Homo sapiens: one gene and its partner. The protein of the gene in region 1 interacts with the protein of each later gene in a pairwise test. Each region holds a gene or a part of one and is shown on either strand. Other genes may lie near its edges.

What was found.
Region 2: the proteins of LCA5L (region 1) and KRT80 interact in binary tests that used the Homo sapiens proteins (3 or more experiments, as listed by UniProt).

What each region holds. Positions count from the first base shown.
Region 1 is NC_000021.9:39,432,834-39,444,070, forward strand, and holds part of LCA5L (lebercilin-like protein), read right to left. Parts: intron 6,941-11,237; exon of another isoform or gene 6,801-6,940; intron 5,886-6,800; exon of another isoform or gene 5,851-5,885; intron 3,335-5,850; exon of another isoform or gene 3,264-3,334; intron 2,741-3,263; 5' UTR 2,587-2,740; intron 1-2,586.
Region 2 is NC_000012.12:52,179,571-52,190,807, reverse strand, and holds part of KRT80 (keratin, type II cytoskeletal 80), read left to right. Parts: intron 1-5,058; exon of another isoform or gene 5,059-5,109; coding exon of another isoform or gene 5,110-5,220; coding exon 5,221-5,429; intron 5,430-9,844; coding exon 9,845-9,905; coding exon of another isoform or gene 9,906-10,199; coding exon 10,200-10,295; intron 10,296-11,237.

The DNA of each region.
Region 1 (11,237 bases):
TGCATCAATATCAGTAGTTCATTTGTTTTGTTTTTAAGTTGCTGAGTAGTTTCCAATTGTATGTATAAACCATAATTTGTTTATTCATCTGTTCACAGACATTTCAGCTATTTCCAGTTTTGGGCTATTACAAATAAAATTGCTGTGAATATTCTGGATATAAATCCTTTATCAGATATATGCTTTGCAAACATTTTCTCCTCATCTGTGATTTTTCATTCTCTTAAAAATGTCTTTTAAAGAGCAGACTGTTAATTTTGGTGAAGCCCAATTATCAATTTGTTCTTTGAAGAATGATCCTGGCCGGGCACGGTGGCTCATGCCTGTAATCCCAGCACTTTGGGAGGCCAAGACAGGCGGATTGCCTGAGGTCAGGAGTTCGTGACCAGCCTGGCCAACAAATTTAAACCCCATCTCTACCAAAAAATAAGAAAATTAGCTGGGCGTGGTGGCGGGCGCCTATAATCCCAGCTACTTGGGAGGCTGAGGCAGGAGAATTGCTTGAACCCAGGAGGTGGAGGTTGCAGTGAGCTGAGATTGCGCCATTGTACTCCAACCTGGGTGACAAGAAACTCTGTCTCAAAAAAAAAAAAAAAAAAAAAAAGATCCTTTTGGTGCTGTATCTAAGAAATTTTTGCATGACCTGAGGTCACAAAGATATCCTCCTTTCTTTCTTCTAGAAGTTTTACTTTAAATCTGTAATCCATTTTGAGTTACTTATTATGGATTAAAATTCATTTTTTGGTATATGGGCATCTAATTGCTTCAGCACCGTTTGTTGCAAAGACTATCCTTTTCCCACTCAATTGCCTTTGCATCTTTGTAAAAACCCAGATATTCATATGTTGATCTATTTCTGTGCTCTCTATACTGTTCTACTGATCTGTTTCTCTATATTCATACCAATACCACACTATTTTGGTTACTGTAGCTTTTTTTTTTTTTTTTTGAGAGAGGGTCTTCTTCTATTGCCCAGGCTGGAGTGCAGTGGCACGATCTTGGCTCACTGCAACCTCCACCTCCTGGGTTCAAGTGATCCTCCCTCCTCAGCCTCCCAAGTAGCTGGACTACAGGTCCATGCCACCACATCCAGCTTTTTTTTTTTTTTTTTTTTTTGTAGAGACAGAGTTTTGCCAATTCTCCTGCCTTGGCAGGGTAGGTAAATTTCCAAAAGAGTTACTTGTACATAAATTATACTCATCAAAGAGACAGGATATTCCTAGCATTCTGGAATTCCCAGGACTCCAGAACCATCCTAAAATTTCTACCTATATGACCTCAATACAGGTATGTTTGGGTTCACCTGGCACTGTGTGAGTTCTATTCTTTTCCATGAAATGGCGACTGAGAGACATTATCAGCAATGTAAACAAAAGTAAAACCCAGTTTGATTCTTGGCTATTACTATAGTTGGCAATGAATGTGTCCTGAATGCAGGTATCAAGTAGGATCATATATTCAGTCTGCTAAATACCAGTTTTCTCACTGACCTGTTAAAAATTGACTGATGACTAGTATCAGGCCTATAACTGTACTTTTAAGTTGATTAAACTATTTCAGAAATCTTCATATTAATATACATACACTACACTTCTCTATTGTTATCAATAAAAAGTGTAGTTTCCACATACAAATTTCTGATTATGTGGTGCATTTTTGAAAAATCCAGGCCTTAAACCAACCACCTACTGTTCTTTCTTTTGAGACGGGGTCTTACTCTGTTGCCTAGACTGGAGTGCAGTGGTGTGATCACAGCTCACTGCAGGCTTGACCTCCTAGGCTCAAGCAGTTCTCCCACCTCAGCCTTTCATTTAGCTGGGATTACAGGCACATACCACCATGCCTGGCTAATATTTTTAGTTTTTGAAGAGATAGGGTCTCACTATGTTGCCCAGGCTGGTCTTGAACTCCTAGGCTCAAGCAATCCTCCCATCTCAGCCTCTCAAAGTGCTAGGATTACAGGCATGACCCACCATGTCCGGCCACTGATGTTCTTAATTAATTAATATGTTCAGTCAAAGAACATTTATTTAGTGTCTTCCAGGGTCTGGGGTTATGAAGAAGGTAAGGCAAAAGGATCTTAAAATAGGCAAAGTTAGTAATTATAAAATTAATATCTACTATAGTTACACTAGTTTTTGTATCAAATTTACAGTATAGTTCAGATTTAGTTTGGCAGCATTTATATTTTGAACAGTTTACAGTATAGTGGTGCCTATTTTACTGCACATGAAGCATAATTTTATTATGTCTCTATCATTATGGAGTTTATAGTTGTTTCTTTGCTGTTATGACTCGGGAACACAATGAGTAATTATAAACACTATTCTAATGGAAAAAATCTGATCTGGTTGAGGTTACGTTTTCCCGGAATGCACTATGGTGAAAGGGATGGCTACTTAAAAGAACAGTAAACTTCTATATTATGCTTATCTAATTAGTGAATTAGAAATAAGAATGTTCAAGATCAAGGTATATGTCTGAATCATTCTGAATACAACGGTCAGGTGTCTTTTCTCCTGCTTTTGCAACAAGGCAGATGGAAAATAAAACACACTAAAATGTTTGAAAGTGATTACTGCATACCTGGTGTTCTTTATTAAACTTCCCTAAGATGTCTGATGATAAACTGAAGATAAGCACAGGGTTCTTCACACTGTAGTATTTATGAGCTTTCCACGGTAGTATTTTTTTGACAGGTTTTGGTCTCTTTTTAAAGAAAGAATATATTTTAAAAAACCTAAAATGGTATTACAAAAGGAAAATGTTACAATCTCACAAAGAAACATATTTATGTAATAAGAATAAGGTTTTGAAGCAGTTTTAATTAATATATATATATTCCCTTGTATTATGGATTGGTGTGGTCTTGGCTCACTGCAACCTCTGCCTCCCAGGTTCAAGCAATTCTCCTGCCTCAGCCTCCTGAGTAGCTGGGATTACAGGCGCCCGCCACCATGCCCGGCTAATTTTTTTGTATTTTTAGTACAGACGGGGTTTTACCATGTTGGCCAGGCTGGTCTCAAACTCCTGACCTCAAGTGATCTACTCACCTTGGCCTCCCAAAGTGCTGGGATTACAGGTGTGAGCTACTGCACCTGGCCACAGGCGGCTTTTTCTCTATGAAAGTGAATCACCTGTTGGCAGTTGATTGGGAAATTCTTGGATGTGATTATCAAACAGTGATGTTGAAGTAAGATTTGAAGGAGCCATACACAGCAGTGCCTTTTCAAGTTTTTGGCAGAAAAGATCTTGTGGCTCACCTGCCTGCTCTTTCTTTCCAGTACAGAGTTGAACATAAATAATTAAAGTTTTTGGATTATGTGTTTCTTGCCTGTCAACAATAAAAATAACAAAAAGACGACCCTCTTGGTAGCTAATTGTAAGCACTGGATTGTATTTTAGAAGCAGAGACAGTGACTGATTTAGTATTATATACTAAAATGTATTCTGGTTCCATACTTTCATGAATTATCAGATTCTTGGTTAATAATACAACTAGAAAATCCTAATTCTTAAAAGTAAATATTTTGTTACACGCATATAATGAAAAAAATTCAGTAGTAAATTTATAATTAATTCATAAGGATAATTTAATTCAAATGATTACATCTGTGTTTCTGGCTGAAATTATTCTATGGGTAGGTAATTACATACATATTTTTTGAGATGGAGTCTCACTGTGTCATCCAGGCTGGAGTGCAGTGGTGTTAGCTCAGCTCACTGCAGTCTCGACCTCCTGGGCTCACGCGATCCTCCTGCCTCAGCTTTTCAAGTAGCTGGGACTACAGGCATGTGTCACCATGCCCAACTAATTTTTTTATTTTTGCAGAGACGGGATTTTACTATGTTGCCCAGGCTGGTCTAGAACTCCTAGACTCAAGTGATCCACCTGCCTTGGCCTCCCAAAGTGCTGGGATTACAGGCATGATCCGGGCCACAGCACCCGGCCAGTAATTATATTCTTAACCAGTCCTGCCTCTTGGGAAAAAAAACTTACTCAGCATGCAAATTTTCCCTCTTTTCTTATCCATTCTCAACATTTCCTATTGCCTTCCCCATTTCATTTTTTCTCTTTAACACATACTATCTAACCTAACACCCATTTTACTTCCTCAGCCTGTTTGTAGCCTGGCTTCCCCACTAACTGCATGCTTCACAAGGCATGCATTCTGGCTCCTTTGTCTATTGCTATATCCTCAGTGCCTAGAGGAGTTCCTGAGAATATTAAGTGTCCAATAAATATTGATCAAATAAATTAATGTTCCGGATGCCTCTGTGCTTAATTCCTCTCTTCATATCCATTACTCCTGAAAAAACTTCTCATTACTGCTAACCCAATCTGAAAAGCTCCAAATGAAAGCTTTCCCAATGTGATAAATACCTATCTCAAACAAAAAAACAGCTTTAAGCTTAATGGTGAAACATTAATTTACACTGATGTAAGAATTAAGATAAGAAATGCCTACTATCACTGTTGTTCATTAATATTGTTCTGGAGGTACTAGGTCTAAATATTGGAAAAGAAGAGGCAAGTTATTATGTGGAAATGAAATGAAATGATTATATACTTATAAAACACTATCAAGAGAATTAAATTGACACCATAGGTTACAAAATGGCTATAAAATTAATCTTTTTTTTGAGACAGGGTCTCACTCCACTGCCCAGACTGGAGTGCAGTAGCGTGATCACAGCTCACTGCAGCCTCAACCTCCTGGGTTCAGGTGATCCTCCCACCTCAGTCTCCCGGGTAGCTGGGACTACAGGCACGTGCCACCATGCCTGGCCAAGTTTTTGTAGAGATGGGATTTCACCATGTTGCCCAGGCTAGTCTCAAACTCCTTGGCTCAAGAAATCTGCCCACTTTGGCCTCCCAAAGTGCTGGAATTATAGGTGTGCCTGGCCCTAAAAATAATCTTTCCTCTATGCAAAATAAAACGACTTAGAAAATAGATGAAACATACCCCACTTACTATATCCAAATATTTAAAACATCTAAGTTTACTACGAATAATATGAAGGAAACTTTAAAACTACTGAAATAAAATATTTAAGTGAAGGACACATTTTGTTCTTATATCAAAAGGACACAGATTATAAAGCTGTAAATTCTCCCTAATTTAATCTACATGATCAATGTATTCTCAATGAAATACTGAGTAATTTTGTGAAATTTGACCAAACGATACAAAATTCACATAGAGAAATAAATATGAAAGAATACAAAGAAATATGAACAAAAATGATGAGAAGGGACTACTTTGATCAGATACTGAGATAGAAAACTACAGTCACTAAAATAGCCTGATACTAATGCTTTGACAGAACAATATTCTGGAATAAAGAGTTCAGAAACAGAAACACAAACAAATACATATGGTAACCTAGTCTAAGATAAAGGTAGAGAAAGTGGACTTCAGTAAATGATGAGAGGTAGGCTAGAATCTACCTGGAAATCAAAACAAAAGCAGATTCTTATTGCATTTCTTACACTAAAATGACGGTTAGATGGGTTCAAAATGTAAATGTTTAAAAAATTATTAAAAGAAAACACAGAGTGTGGAAAAACATAAAGCCTAGAACCATAAAGGAAACAACTGATAAAAATAACTGCATAAAAATATAAAACTTCCTTATAATTAAAAAAATAATAAAGTTCAAAGGCATCTTACAAACTGGAAAAAAGATTTTCAATACATATGACAAAGACCTAATTTCCTTAATTTGCAGAGACCTCTTAAAATAATCCATTAGTAAAATGGGCAAAAGATATGAATGCATTACAGCATAAACACATTACAGAAACACAGAAAACCAAGAGTTATATAAAAAGATGTTCGAACTTACTCATAATGAAATGCAAATTAGATTCCGCTTTTCATCTACCAGAATGGCAAAAATTAAAGAATCAGATAAAACATATTATTGTTATTATAACTGTGATGAATACTGATAATGCATATTATAAAAAATAAAGCATATCTGTGTATGTGTAGATATGTAAAGTTCTCTAAGATACGTTCATTTTCCAATCAATGTCTACATGTAAAATAGAGTTAAATTCTCATTTTTAAGATTTAAGACTTTCATTTGGTACAGTGGTAGGCTGAATAATGGTCCCCTAAGGATGTCCATGTCCTAATCCCTAGAACCTGTGTTACTATATATAGCAAAAGGGACTTTGCAGATGTGATCAGTTTCAGGTCTTGAGGTGGGAAGATTATCTTGAGTTATCCCAGATTATCCATGTGGACCTAATGTAATCACATGGGCCTGTCTAAGAAGGACACAGGAGGGGTCAGAGTGAGAAGGCTCTGTGATCACAGAAGCAGAGTCAGAGGGAGAAGACACGACGCTGCTGGCTTTCAAGATGGAAGAAGGGGTCACATGCCACAGAATACAGGCTTTTCTAGAAGTTAGAAAAGGGAAGGGAATGATCCTCCCTTGGATCCTCTAGAAGGAATCAGTCCTGCTGACATCCTAACTTTAGCCCCTTAAGACTCATTTCAGACTTCTGACCTCCAGAGCTGTAAGAAAATAAATTTGTTTGAAGCCACTGAGTTTGTGGTAATTTGTTATAGCAGCAATACAGAACTAATACAGGTACCTTGAAAAACATCACAAATTAAAATGAGACTAAAAGCAGGCTATTAAATGCAAATGAATTGCACTGTTATAAATTTCAAGAAGTCAGAGAAGATGGTGAGTTCAAACGTTTTGGGGAAATATCTTAATTGTTCCAGAAACCAGCTTGCTTTACCTTGCCTTGGACTATATCTAGGAACAAGATGACCAACCTGAGATAGCTGGTGGGATTGTTTGCTTTGGAAAAATGAGCTGGAGAAAACAGCCGACCCTCTCATAAGCACTCCATGAAGACTTTTTTTTAAAGCAGGTGGCTTTCCTGCAGAGGCAGTGGCAGAAGCATGGCTGAAGGCTGAGAAAGCAGAGTGAAGTAGTTGTAAGGGGGAGGAGTGACAAAGAGGCGTCAGGTAGCTGGCAAAGTTAGGAAATTAATTAGAGCTAACAAATTAACTGAGGACATAAGTAAATATATTTAGAATCATGGGGTCAAATTTCTTACTGTCTGAAAGAGGGAAGGCTGGAAAGAACCCTGAAATGTTGGATTAGAATGAGAAATGCTAGGTTCAAATACACACACATACACACACAAGGAGTTATATACAGTTACAGATCTATGTGCATATATATCTATAAATGTATGTGTATGTGTATATACATATGTATGTATATGTGTGCGTGTATTTTTCCCCTAACTCTGCTGAGAGGGCCTAGAATCAACGACACCCCAGAAACAATGAGTACACTGTGTACCATTCTCCACTAAATACCATTCTCTGCTATAATGAATTGGGGTTCCTTGGAGAAATGGATGATCCTAAGCCTGAGGCAGGCAAAGAGAAGAAAGGCTGGTGTGTATCAAAAGGGCACAGGAGCCAGCTTTAAGAAGCTCCCACTAGTCAAAGATAGGGCAATTTGAACATCAATACCAATAAGGAGGATACATCAGCCTGAGCAACACAGGGAGATGCCATCTCTATAAAAAACAAAACAAAACAAATTAGCTGGGTGTGGTGGTACACACCTATGGTCCCAGCTACTTGGGAGGCTGAGGCTGCAGTGAATTTGATCATGCCAACACTGCACTCCAGCCCGGACAAGAGTGAGACCCTGTCTCAAAAAAAAACAAAACAAAATGGGATTTACCACGTCAGAGTATCTCTTCCCAAAGCACTAATCAAATGCAAAGGGAAAACAGGTGGCTGTGGAGAAAACTGGCAGATTTGTGCTTGAACAGGTAATCAAGGTTCATGTCACCAGGGTGGGACAGGTGACATTCACTAGTGTCCATGGGCACTTGAGAAGATCACAGCACCACTTCTGTGGTCTTTCTGCCACAAGCACAGCCTGTCTGGTTAGAAAAAAACATCAGCCAGACCCAAGTTCAGGGTCTTCCTATTGAATGAAAGGCTTAAACTCTAAACTCTTTGACAAAAATGTTAAATGAACAGAAAAGCTCTTCTCTAAGCTTATAAATGTGGTATTATATAGCTAAGATAATCAATATCTTACGGTTTTCAAGAACATTATTTCAAACACTTTATCTACTTTTATGTGTCCCAATTTTTTGCTTCAGAAATTTTGCGAGTCACTCTAAACATTGACAAAGGGAGGTTATGATTCTTAACACTGATTGGCCTGGCGTGGTGGCTCACACCTGTAATCCCAGCACTTTGGGAGGCTGAGGTGGGCAGATCACTTGGGCCCGGGAGTTTGAGAGCAGCCTGGGCAACATGGTGAGACCCTGTTCCTAAAAAAAAATTAGCCGGGTGTGACAGTCCCAGCCACTCAGGAGGCTGAGCCCAGGAAGTCAAGGCCGCAGTGATGCAGTGAGCTGTGATCGCACAACTACATTCCAGCCTGAGGGATGGAGTGGGACCCTGTTTCAAAACCAAAAAAAACCAAACGAACAAAACACTGATTGAGAGGCAGTATACTGTGGAAGAAAAAAGGTATGTTCCCAGTTCTGCCAATACAACTAGCTATTAGGCCTCAAATGTCTAAGGCAAGAAATTAGGTGATTTCTCAGTGACATATAAGGTCCAGTCTAGCACTAAAATCCATAAATGAAATATACCTATATATATAAGCAATTTCAAGTTTATTTGATAACATGAAAATGTGCCACGTTCAAAGTTTGGATGGTTACAGACTAGCTATGCTATGTAGGTTTTGGTAATTTAACAACTTTATATATTTTAGAACAAATGTTTGAATTCACTACCCGACTGACACCCTAGTCACCTTCAGGATAAGAACCCGTGCCTCTCTACTTCCACCAAGTGGTGGCAAGTGCAATGTACTGCACTGAGTAAAGGGCTACAAATCTTTACACAAGTACCCGTTTTTAGCTACCCTGACACAACATTCTTTTTAATTTTCAGTGTTTGCCTGATTATTTTTACTAGATTTTCATTCTATTTTAATAGAATTGTATTAAAACACACGGCGCTTAGTATCTCTTACATATTAGAATGTTCATTTCATTCATTCTTTCAGCACCCATTTGAGTGCTTACTATGTGCCAGGCACTATGTGGGGTGTGGAGATACAATGATGAACACAAACAGCAAATGTTTCTATTTTTGTGGGCCTTATGTCAGTAATGAACTAATCATAATAGTGACTGTCCAGAGTGTCTTCAAGGAAGGAGATACAACTCTGTGAAGATAAAGAAACCTGATCCTGACAGCGATCAGGGAAGTTATCCCTGTAGAAGTACTGTCTGAGTTGAGATAGGAAGGGTCAGTGGGAACTAATTAGGCAAGAGAGGATGAGAGGGAGGAGGGAAAAACAATGCAGACAGAGAGGAAAGAATGCCAAGGCCTGGTGGGTGGAGGAGGCCCATGTGGCTGAAGCCCAGTGAGAAGGGCCAGCGGTTTCAGATGAGTCTTGAGACGCAGGCGGGGGTGAACAGCTGCAGGGCCTTCGGAAGGCGTGTTTATGATGTGGATCATTAATCCAAGGGCAATGGGAAGCTAACTGTAGGCAAAAGAGGGAGGCGGGAGGGGTGGCATAATCAGCTCTGCCTTCTGAAGGTTACTCTGGCTGCAGGGTGAAGAATCGAGAAAAGCCAGAGGGAATGTGGGGAGACAAGCTGGTACAGGACTGCGGCAGGCTGAATGAAGGTGGTGGTTTGCACTTGGGTGTCCACGACAATGAAGAGATGTGAAAGATGCCCAGGAGACAACCTCACCTGGGCTTAAGGATTCACTGGGTGTTGGGGTGTGATAAGGGTCAAGGAGGAATCCTAGGTACAACGGAAGAGGTTCCAGCTGGGGTTGGGAAGTGGGGTTGTTTGGTTTTGTGCATGTTGAATTGGAGGAGACTGAGTGGTATTAAGAAACACTGTCACGCAGCTAGCTGAACGTACGAGTCTAGCTGAGAAAGGGTCAAGTTGGAGAAAGGTAGGAGTCAAGAGCACAGGGCTGGAACTTAAAAGCTGTGCGTGTGAATCTGTGCCTTGTGCTAGATGAAGGGGCGCAATGGAGAATAAAATGGGAACAGATGCCGAGCTTTGAGAATCTCCAATATTAAGGAGCCTGGGAGAGGAGGGTGAGCCAGAATGGCAGCAGGAAAAGCAGAAGAGTCAGGGATGGTCACAGAAGCCAAGGGAAGACAGTGTTTGTAGAGTGAAATGGGGGCAGCAGTTTCAGATGCCGCTGAGAGATTGAGCAAGACAAAGCCTGAAAAAGTCTCATTCCTGGTTTTTGTTTTAGCAGAGATGAAGAGGGAAGCCATACTGGCTGAGGAGTGAGAGACAAATAATAGAGGCATTGAATATGGCAGTTCTTTAAAGTTTGCCTGTCGAAAGGGATAAGGGATTGGACAATAACTGGAAACTGAAGGGGAACGTGGGGTCAAAGAAGATTCTTTTTTTCTCTTTTGTGATGGGAGACTTGAACATGCTTCAAAACCATGGCAAAGAGCCAGCTGAGATGGAACAGGTGATCATACAGGAGAGGGAATGTATACCTGACAGGGTAGAGTTTTTGGCGAGTGGAAAGCGATGGGATCCAAAGCACGGAGAGGGAGTGGCCTTGGTTAGGAGGAGGAAGGAAGGTAGGAACAGATATAAGTAAGGCTTGCAGTTTTGGGAGCTGAAGAATGAGGGGATTCCCATGTGACAGCTTCAAGCTTCTCTATGAAGTGACAGCACAAGGGCGTGGTGGGAGATCAAATCTGAGGAAAATGGTCATTTATGAAATGCAATCTCCTACAGACCCTCAGCTAACCGTGGCAATCCTACTCTGTTACTTTGGTTAATTGGGGTTTTACCTGATGGCAAAAGAGAAAAGATGGGGCTAGGAGTTTAAGAGAGTGGCAAGGGTAGGGCCGGGCGCAGTGGCTCACGCCTTTAATCCCAGCACTTTGGAAGGCCGAGGCAGGCAGATTACCTGAGGTCAGGAGTTTGAGACCAGCCTGGCCAACATGGTGAAACCCCATCTCTACTAAAAATACAAAAATTAGCTGGGCATGGTGGCGTACACCTGTAATCCCAGCTACTCAGGCCGAGGCAGGAGAATTGCTTGAGCCCAGAGATGGAGGTTGCAGTGAGCCGAGATCTTGCCACTGCACTCCAGCCTGGCCGACAGAGTAAGGCTCTGTCTTAAAAAAAAAAAAAACAACAAAAAAAGAGAGATTGGCTAGGG
Region 2 (11,237 bases), on another chromosome or scaffold:
TCCAAGAAACTCCTCCTGACTCTGCACCCTCCTGCACCCTCAAGAATAATCATGATAGTGCCAGCTGCCATTGGTTAATTGCTTACTATGTGCCAGGCACTGTGCTGATGCTTTTCAGGTTTATCTGTATTTCTCTCAACAACCTTATGGGAGAAGACAATTTTATGTCCATTTCACAGATAAGGAAAACTGTACATTTCTGAACCTGCCAGTAAACCAGAGGTCCAGCCTTCAGCCCCTGGCTCAGTCCTTGTCTGCTCTTGGCCTCTGATTCTGTGTTCCTCTGCATGTTGCTGGTCTCCCCCATGAGGTGGGAGCTCACAGAGAGGGGCAGAGGGAAGAAAGTAACATGCATTGAGCATCTACTTATGCCTTGCCCTCTGGAGGAACATTGCAAATGCAATGAAATTCAAGCCACACTGCCACCCTGCAGTGGCTGTTATTTTCCCAACTGTGCAGATGAGGAAACTGAGGACCAGCAAGGCTAAGTGCCTTGCCCAAGATCACACAACCAGCAAATGGTAGTCTGGATTTGAACTCAGGTCTGTTGAGACACGAAGTCAGTGGTCTCTGTGGTGGGAATCTTTTCTTTCCTTCTTCCATTCATGTGCCTAGACCAGAGTTTCATCATCCACACCTGGGGTACCCCTGGGTACCCAGAGGGGAAGGACCACAGTCCACTGAGGCAGAGCATCCCTTCCCCCAGCCCTAACTGCACAGAGCCTTGCATTGCTGAGCTGGTTCTCCCTCTAAGAGCAGCCCAGCTGCCCTGGGGAGGCAGGTCCCTAAAGAGCCACCTCCTGACCAAACCCAGTTTAATCCCTTAGAAGGAATGCTTCACTGAGCTATGGAATTTGGCTCAGATGGGTGGTTTTCTCCCTCAAACGCCAGCACTGATATCACCCTGTGCCCCTGCCATGGGGATGGGAGGATATAAGCACAGGGAAGAGGCCCTCAGGGTTGGGGTCCTGTGCCCAGAGACCAGGGCAATGCCCTTGAAGTTCTTTAGCAGAATTGGAGCCTCCCAACCCTTAGCCTTGACCTTGAGATGGGGTGCCCTTCAGGGTGGGACACAGGGAGCTGTGGGTACTGGCCGTTTGGGGGCCCTGGTTGCAGGGCCCCAAGGGGCCCCAGCTGACCCTTCAACTCTGCAAAGATCTGTTAGCCCCACCCTCCTTGCCTCCTTGTGGAGGCTGTGAGGGCCCACATGGAAGCAGGAAGTGGTTAAGATGTGAAATCTGGAGCAGCATTGTGGGGTTTAAATCCCGGTCCACTACTGACCAGCTGTGTTGTCTCAGGCAGGTTATTTAACCTCTCTGTGCCTCAGCACACATTAGGTTAGCAGGCTCATTAGAATCAAATGGGAGAATTTTTGAAAAGAATTTAGAACATATCTGGTATATATTAAGTATATTATAACTGTTAAATAAAAAATGAAATAAATGGGCCTGGCCCAGGGAGCAGCTAGAACCCAGTTAGCCCCTTCCAGGCAGGAGCCTGGAGAGCAGGTGGGGAGAGGCTCCCTGCCGGATAGAGGAGTGAAGGGACTCATGGGCAGGAGGTACGGCGCAGGGCTGTTGAGCAATTATGGACCCAGAGGAAGGCCCAGGGGTGAGACGCCATGACCAGTGGGTGGGGGCTCTGGGTAAAGAGAGGAGAGGGGTGGGGGCCCTCTGAGGAACTGAGAGGAACCTGGGAGCACTCAGGAGGAGCAGAGACTCTCAGGAGGTGGTAGAGGCCCTGGAACACTGTGGTTTCTTCCACTTGCTGGCTGCGTTTTCCTGGGCAAGTCATTTACCCTCTCTGCGCCCCAGATTCCACTGCTCTGCTCTGCCGGTGGTCCTGAGCTCGTCCCAGTGGAAGGACTGGTAAGGCAACAGTCATGAGATGAAGGGGGATGAGGAGAAGCAGTAGCAGCAGGAGAGGCCAGGGGAGGCAGGGAGGGCGCAAGGCCGACCTCCAGCAGAGGCTGCTGGCTGGGCTTCTTGCCTTCACGCACACACAGACAACAGAGGGGATGGAGAGAGAGGCAAGAGGCAGGACTGCCTGAGCTCATCCTGGGGAGGCTGTAGAGAGGGAACCTATGAGCAGTGGTAAAATGCCTGGAGACAGAGGGATGGAGACAGAGGGATGGAGACAATGTCTTCACCGAGGCCTGTGTGACCTCTGGAAGAGCTGAAGTCAGCCTTCCCCCTGCCTGTATGCAGAAAAGCACAAACCAGCCACTGCTCGTGAGTCTTTGAGGCTCCCTGGCTAAAGCCAATGTCTGGCTGAAGGCCGGGGATTCAACAGCCCCCGCTAAGGAACACTACCTGTGTGGCCCAGAGGCACTCCCCTGTAAGACCTGCAGCCTCTGGGATGTCCGGCCTGTCTCCCTCCAGGAGTTCCAGTTTAGGCTGCTCGGTTTCCCCCACAAAACAACATGCCTCTCCCCTAACCTCAGCCCCAACCTGGCCCTACTTTTCAACTGGGCTTCAGTTTCTTCATCTGTAAAATGGAGAGGTCCCTGCTACAGCTGCTACTGTATGATCTAAGGGCAGAGGGCCAGGCAGAACAGAGAGGAGGAATCAGAGGTGAAGGCTCGGCAGTCTTCCTGGGTTGGAGGCAATTAACCTGGCACCTCTCAGGGCACCAGGATTATGAGCCCTCCCCAGGTCCTTGTTCTGAGAGGGAGGAGCCTTTCTGCAAGGAAGGTCCCAAGTGGGGAATGAATTTCCATCCCCGCCCACTGAGACAACCAGAGACTCCCCCAAGGGCAGCAGAAAACAGGGGGCTGTCCCTGATCCCCTAAGACCACAGATGCCTTCTAGCTGGACTGGCCGGCCAAACGCACACCATGTCCCAGCGAGCTAGTGCTGAAGCATAGGGAATTGAGGTTAGACTGTAGGAAGAACTTCCTGGTGTGAAGATTTCTCTGCTGCTCATGGGTGGAGGAAGGAGCCTCACATCTCTCCTCTCACTCCACCCTCAGTGTAAACATGGGGCTCCTGCTTGTCAAAACGGAGGCAAGGTGGGGTGAGCAGATACCTGCCCCCCCAACGCTCCCTCTCACACTCACAAGGCAGGGCAGAAACCCTCTTGACCTCCATCCCTACTGAACCTGTTTGGCTGTGAGTACAGCAGAGAGCAGGATTAAGGTTGGCTTCAAGCAGAACCTACCAGTACAGATATGCAGGGGAATGGCAGCCCGCAAATACCGTCAAACGCCATCATCCAGTATTCCTGCTGGCGTTGTCTGCTGTGAATGTCGAAGGGTCGTCAGAGCACTTCAGGAAAAACAAGGACACCCTGAAGAAGCAGAGCAGAGAGAGAGGGGCTGGCCCCACCTGACCGTTCGGGAGCCTACGAAGGTGCAGAGAGGGCAGTGGCCATCAGATGGGGCTCTCTGGGAAGCTGGGCCACCGAGTTGCTTTGTGACCCTGGAGAAGTCACTTGACACCCCTGGCCTCCATTGCCTCCTCTGCAAATGAAGGGCCCAGCTCAGCTGATCCAAAAGGCTGCTGGCAGCTCTCGCAGGCTACGATTCTGGGAGCCTGGGCCAGCAGCACCGGCAGTGGTGGGAGAAGGCCCAGCTACTCACCTGTGACCATAGGGAGCATCACTGGGCTGGTTATCAAAACATCCTCATGACAAACAACCCACACTGACGGGAGCCAGGCCCCAACCAGGCCTCCAACCTCATGGCCTGCCCTCATGGCCTATCCCTGGCACCAAGGGAGGAGAGGCCCCAAGGGGGAGCAGATGGCTCCCAGTGTGATGGGGAAAGTGGTGGGTCAGGACAAATGAGAAACAGGTAAACTGGGGGCCTTTCAAGATATGAGTCATGGAGGGCTTCCTGCAGGAGGGAGCTGGAAGAACAAATGGGGAGGAGAGGAGGACCTGGTGATGGGAAGGAGAGTAGAGAGGACAGCCAGGGTGGGGAGGAGGGAGGCAGGGGGAGCCCCAAGCTGAGCTGGGCTGGACTGGGTAGAAGGAAGGAGAGGACTGCGCAGGACCCTCCCAGCAAGAGGCATATGGTAGGCAGAGTCTGAGAGGCGCAGCTGGGCTCAGAGCCCTCCCAGGGTTTCACCTCGAGGCAAAACTGTCCCTAACTGGAGGCAGAAGCCAGCCCATGAAGGGTAGCTGGGATCCCAGGGCCCACAGTGACCAGCAACACACAGGACGCATGTGTCATAGTGGTTAAAAGGTTCTAAACCCAAAGTTCCTGGATTCCAGGCCTGGCTCTGCCACTTGCTAATTTTGTGACCTTGGGCAAGTTCCATCACCTCTGGTTTCCTCATCTGTAAAATACAGCTTATAATAGTACCCACCCATGGGGGTGCTGCAGGGATTTCATGGGTCAAGCATGTAGAGCAAGGCCTGGCACACAGCAGGGGCCACATGAGCACCTGCTGTTGTCGTATCCCAAAGCACATCCCCAGGTGTCCCCACAGTCTCATGGGGAGAGTAGTGGCTCAGGACAAAGGAGGAGCAGCTAAACTGAAGGCCTCAGTGCTGGAGGGAAGAGGGAAGTCTTTCAACCTGAGTCACAGAGAGCTTCCTGCAGGAGGGAGCTGGAAGAACAAATGGGGAGAGCAGAGGGCCTGGTGATGGGAAGGAGAATAGAGAGGACAGGCAGGGTGGGGAGGAGGCAGGGAGAGCCCCAGGCTGAGCTCGGCTGGACAGGGTGGAGGGAAGGAGAGGACCGCGCAGGCAGGTGTTATCATTCCTAACTTCTAGCTGGGGAAACTGAGGTTCAGGGAGCCTCTGTCATCGAGAGGATGAGCACTTAAGGACAGTACTAACCAGGCCCTACCCTGCTGAGTTTCCAGGACAAGATGGGACCACACTTGTCGTGGTGGCAAGGGGGCAGATAGGCCTCTGACACCCCATGTTCCCTGGGGTCTCCCGCCCCAGCCCCAGGCAGGCATGGAGAGCCTGTCGCATGCTTGGCACTCTCACACCCTCTTACCCCCTTCCTCTGCCAGCCCTGCCCTGCCCTCGCCTGGAAACCTTTGCTAATTGGCTCCACCTTGCTCTGATCCTGTCCTTATCTCACCATCTTCAGTTTTAACAATCAGTCATTGGAGGTGCTTTCTGCTGAGTGAGCGCCCTGGGTGGTGTGCATAAATGAGCTGCCACTTCCCAGGGAGCCCTCCGTGGGCTCTTGCTGGTCAGCCCGGGGCCTCAGCCCCCGACTGGTCCACACCTGACCCATTCGCCGCCTTCCTGCTCTCCCAGGTGCAAGCCCTGGAACAGCGCAACCAGCTGCTGGAGACACGCTGGAGCTTCCTGCAGGGCCAGGACTCAGCCATCTTCGACCTCGGGCATCTCTATGAGGAATATCAGGGCCGGCTGCAGGAGGAACTGCGCAAAGTGAGCCAGGAGCGGGGGCAGCTGGAGGCCAACCTGCTGCAGGTGCTGGAGAAGGTTGAGGAGTTTCGAATCAGGTACGTAGAGCCCCATGAGAGCCATGAGCAAGGCCTGAGGGCTGGGACCAAGCTGTGCTCAGATGGGAGGCACTTAAGCCAGAGAAAGAGGAAAGATGTTCTGCAACATTTCTTTACCTGAGACATTTATTGAGGGACTGGTATGTGCCAGGCAGTATTCTAAATACTGAGGATATGGCTGTGAACCTACAGCCGCCCCCTCCCTAATAGCAACCCTTAAAACAAAGTCAATCTTGTGCTGGCTCCCAGCTAAACCCTGTGCCTGCTGGCCCTTGGGCATCATCATAACCCGCACCCCCTGCCTCGAGCAGCCGTCCTCTTGTACCTATGGACACACTTGCTCTTGTCCACATGTTGCTCTGGCAATGGGAAATTACGTCACTAGCTAGAACAGATGGGTTTCTGTTTTAGATGTGGCTTTAGATTTTGATCTCGACTGGGTTGGAAAGGAGAGGAAAGCCACCAGGAAGCAGGAAGGGGATGGAAAGAATGGGTTTGATTTGAATAAAGAAGCAATGCATGCCAGACATCAAGGTAGACTTGGAAAGAGACAGATAAGGAAAACAGCCCCAGTATGCAAGGTGCCTTTACAACTTAGTGGGGCAGACAGACAGACAGACAAACAGTTGCTGGGCAGTATATCCCAGCATTTATGGGCCCAGGCTTGGGCATTAGCCCAGAATGAGGTTTAATCTTCATCATCACCCATCACTAGCTTTGTGACCTCCAGTAAGTGGCTTAATATCTGAACCTCAGTTTCTTCCTGTGTGAAACGGGAATGATTATGGTTGATGCCAATCTAAAGTAGGTATCTAACCTGAGGAGGAAGTTGAGAGTGTGGCATGGTGACTGGCAGTTATAAATGGCAGCTTTTCTATCCCTAAAAGGCTGAAGTTCTCAGCACACAGCAGGTCTTTGACACAGGTTTGCTGAACTGAATTGGCCAGTCTAAAAGGGAAGGCTGGTCACTCGGGCTGCTTAGAGGAGAGGTGACCCTCTGTGGTCAGGTAGTGGGCAGGGCTTCAGGAACAAGGAGCCTGGGGCAGAGGAGAGTGGCTGTGCCCTGCACCGACCTCCTTGGGTCTGGTCTCCTTGCAAGGAGACCTCCAGCCAGCGTGAGGGGAGGACAGGGCAGGCTGAACCCTTGGTCTCCCCTCCTGCAGTGCTGCGGCCCAGCCCCAAACCCTGCCAATCTGAGGTGAGACCCACAACCTCCAGAGCAGCCGTCCAGGCAGGCTGGAGAGTGGAGAGCACCTGTCCTGTCCAGGAGTCCAGAGACCTGGGCTGTAGCTGAGTTTACCCATCGCCTCTCCCCAGCCCTGCCCTCCCAGGCCTAGGGAAACACACACAGGGCATCTGACCGCCCCTCCGGAGAGACCCAGCTTCCTAGTACCTGACCATGACCGGGCAGTCGGGGCAGCTCACCAGAATCTGTGACCCACTTTCCTGATCCCCAGTAGATCTTTGGCCCTCAAAGGCTCAGAGAATGCCAGAGCCAGAGGGAGCCCTGGATCCTCCTTTTACAGGGAAGGAAACAGGCCCTGAAAGGGCAGGGCTTGTCCTCAGTTACACAGCCTTGCATGCTAAGTCCCATCCCTAACCCCAGCCAGCCACTGGGTAAGGCTGCTCCCACGAGCTCCGCCAGATCACGTCCATGGAAGCACTTTGTAACTGGAAGTTCTATACACACACTACCTGTTGTTTTAATCTGGCTCAGCCCCCTCATTTGGCCTGCCGCCTGGTTTCTATCCGCCTGCTACCTGACTCTACTGCTTAGGCTGAGCCTCTCTTCCTCTCTCTGGGTAGGGAACCCACCCGAGTTGGGAAGGAGAGACTGGGCAAACAGCCTGGCTGGAGGGCTTCTCGGTCTTCAGGCCAGAGCCAGGGGAGCTACAGCCTGACTGTGCAGAGCCTAGGGCCCCCAGGAGCCAGGAGACGCCAGGCCAAGCCCCAGTAGGGAAGGGCTGTGCCCTGTCTCTACGGAGCCGATGAGATCAGCCTCACTCCCAGAAATAAACAAGTTGCGGGGGTGGGGATGGTGGTGCAGGTGTGACAAGCTAAAAAATGCCTGAGAATGGGTTTGGGAGCTGGTGGCTGACAGACTGGCAGAGGATTGGGAGTGGAATAGGGGACCTAAGCCTCTATGGGGATGGAGACTTCCGAAGGCTTTGAGGTAGCAGAAACCCCAAGGATCAGCAGTCTAGCCCTCTATTTACTAAGAACAAAGCAGAGGCCCAGCAAGGGGAAGCAACTTGCCCAAGGCCACACAGCAAGTGACTCAGGGATGCCACATACAGCTGTGCAAACTGTGCGCTGCACAAGTGTGCATGATTCAGGCGGTGGATAGGGACTGAAATCCAAACAAGCATCAGGCCATGCAGGGTACCAGGTCAAACAGCCCGTGAGGAAGGGGGCTTTTTTCTAACTGGCACAAAGGCTGGAGATGAAACAGTATTGGTCTTAAGGGGACTGGCTGCAGACTGGAACCCAGTGTCCAGCCGCAGCCCAGCGTTCCCCTCGGTCCTCTCCCCTGGGGCTCAGGGCTTATTCCCACCCCACCCACAAAGCACACCTAGAGGTCCAGGGTCAAGGCAGACCTGGCCTAGCCAGGATACCGTGAGGATGCTCCCTCCAGTCCCCTGACTCCTGGTGTCCTTCTCTGCCAGAGGGGGTTTCCCAGGGCAGCTGCCAGGCCAGCTGTCTCCCTCAACTCACCCTACTTATGTTCCCCTAGGCAGGGTGAGTGGCAGAGAGGCACCTGTGCTGTGCCAAGAGGCTTCCTGAGGCCGAAGCAGAGGGGCTGAGCCCCAGCAGGTGCTGTCCCCCGCTGCAAGCACTCTGTGAATTGCCCCCATTTAATCGTCACAGCATCACTATAATCGTGGCTGAGGCACACAGGAACTCACCCCAGGACACAGCTGGTTAGCAAGGAAGCCAGGATTTCAGCCCAAGTAGCCTGGCTCTGGTCCCCTTGCTTCATCAGCACACTCCAGGAGCCCCCAGTCCTTCCTTGAGCCTCCATTTCCTCATCTGTAAAATGAGACCAATGGGACTTCCCTAGCTGGGTGCTCTGAGGACCACCAGAGAGAGTGCAGGTGAAGCACTCAGCACCTGTTATTCCCCACTCAAGTCCAATTTAGTTCTCTCTGGGGATGCCTAGACAGCAGAACGTTCTCCCCGGCCTGCTCCTCTGCCCCACCCCCAGGACCTGTACCATCAAAGCCCCTAACAGACTCTTGGCAGCCAAGGCAGTGGCCAGGGAGGGTGTGGGCCCCTGGTACACTGAGACCAGAAACCCACGTGCCCTGCCATTGGGTCCACGCCCCTCAGCTCCTCAGGTGGGCTGGTGGGAAAGAAGAAGGCATGAGGGGCGCCAGATATAGCCAGCTCAATGGGTGATGAGTGACGCAGCCCTGCTGGGAGGCTAGGGCCTGAGGTAGGCAGGCGGCTGTAATTAGAGCCGCCAGTGATTCAGGCATTCCCCGAATAGGAGGGAAAAAAACAGAAGCTGCTGAATCCCCACAGCAGCTGGGGCCAGCGAGAAGTCTGGAGCCAGCAGACACCCACCCTGGGGCTAAGACAAACAAATGTCTTGACTTGAGGAAGAGGGTCGGGCCAGGGATCTGGGGGTCCTGTCCTCCCCACCCAACGGTGTCCTTGTTCCAAACCCAAGGTGGGAGCGAGTAAGAAGTCCAAACTGAGAAGAGCGTTATTGAGCTTTGTTGAGTATGGCCTATGCGGCCTGTAGCTGGCTGTCAACTGCGTCAGGGGTGGGTTTGTCAGCCCCCTGTACACGTGGGCACATGCCTACCCCTTAGAGGCAGGAAGCCAAGAGAGGAGGGGTGATGCAACTTGCCCAAAAACACACTGGGGGTCCCTCTGACAGCAAAGTTCACACTCTTTCCAGCCTCCCTTTGGAGGGAATACAATGGGATGGTGTCCTACTGGCTCGCAAAGCAGAGGGGTGGTGGCTGGGGCTGCAGGGAAGGCATGGAGGTGGGAGAGGTGAGGTGTGAGCAAGATGCTCCCAGCGGACTTGAGTGAACCTGAGATTGCCAGGGAAGGAGGTCAGGTAAAGATGAGGGGATAAAGTGCCAGGGTGAGGGGCTGCACAATCAGGGAGGCCTCCTGGAGGGGAGTGGGTGTGGAGCAGAGCCAGGAAAGGGCAGAAGCCACTGGGAGAGGACTGTGTCATCAGGAGGGAGTGAGGAACGGGGAGCCAATGCCAGGAGGTCGGGGGGAGAGAGAGAGGATGTGTCATAGAAGATGCAAGAGGGAGAAGGATGGGCTGCTTTTCTTTAATTGGCAAAGAGACCCCAAGTGGGATAGCACAGGCCCTGAGCCCCAACCAAGGGGAGTTCACCAGGCCCAAGCCCCCACCATATCCAGCTGAGCAACCCCTCTCTCCCTCCCAGGTATGAGGATGAGATCTCCAAGCGCACAGACATGGAGTTCACCTTTGTTCAGCTGAAGAAGGTAGCCTGCCCAGCCTGCCCCAGGGGCTCCTTCCTCATGGGCCCTGGGCCCTCTTTCCCTCCAGATATCCTACTCTCCTTTATGCCCAATCAAAGCCCTCAGAGGCTTAAGTCCCAGGACCAACAGACAGACAGGGAGATACCCCCATCCCCATCCAGCTCCTTTTTCGAGGCTCTGAGCCAGATCTCCTCTGGAATCACCCCCACTCTCACCCAGGAGGCAGCCCCCCAGCCCACTCCTGCCCTGGGACCCTCCATTCCCTCTCCCACCACTCACCACTGCTGCCAACCCCAGGACCTGGATGCAGAGTGTCTTCATCGGACTGAACTGGAAACCAAGTTAAAAAGCCTGGAGAGCTTCGTGGAGTTGATGAAAACCATCTATGAGCAGGTGAGTGAGATGGGGCCAGTGTCTTGCCAAGCCCAGAGCTGGCTGGTCCATGGGTAAAGGACACAGGGGAAGCACAGCCATCCAGTGGGGCATGGAACCTCCAACAGTCACTTACAATTTCCAGCCCCAGAATAATAATTTCCTAAACCCCTTCCTGTGATGGTGTCAATAACCCTGCATGACCCCTGGACATTCATCTCATGGAACATGGGCTGGTTCCCCAAAGGCCACTCTTTCTGGAAGAACTATACCTTTGTGTGCTAGAGTACTGAGGGCATGCTGGGGACCAGGTGCCTCGGACAAGGGTCAGGAGGCTGGCCTCAGTGGCATGGAACCCAGGGGTCTGGAACGAGCATGCTGATTGAACTGATCTCTCCCTAATTCCTGCAGCCTAAACCACAGCACCCACAGTGCTAGTTCTGATAGGCCTGCCTTTCCGTTTTCCCCATTTTTGGCGAAGACAGAGGAAACATTCGCATTTGTTTCCTAAGTCCTCAGTGGGGCCCAGTGTACAAGGGCCCATAACAGCATGGCATGCATCAACACAGCCATTAGATGGGCACTGCCGCTGGCTTCTGGACACCACTCCTCCATGCCAGCTGCTGACTCCTAGGCACCCTTCAGGATATGTGTCCTCCTCTCCACACCACTTGTTTCAAGGGTGAGGAGGTTCAGGGGTGACACTCCTGAGCTAAAGTCCCTTCCACAGAGGTCTGCAGTTCAGCTAGGAGCAGGCAGCACCACTGTTGGAGATAACAGGGCTTGCCCGCCTAAGTGCTGCACACTGCTGGTGCCAAGCTATGGCAGTGCAGCCAAGGTCAAGGCTGAGATCAAAGTCACCACCACAACTTACAGATTCTGCTAAAATGGCCCTATGATCTGCTGACCACAGCTTCATGGCTGCATCCTGTGGAAAGGAAGACCGGGCCTCATGGCCCTGTC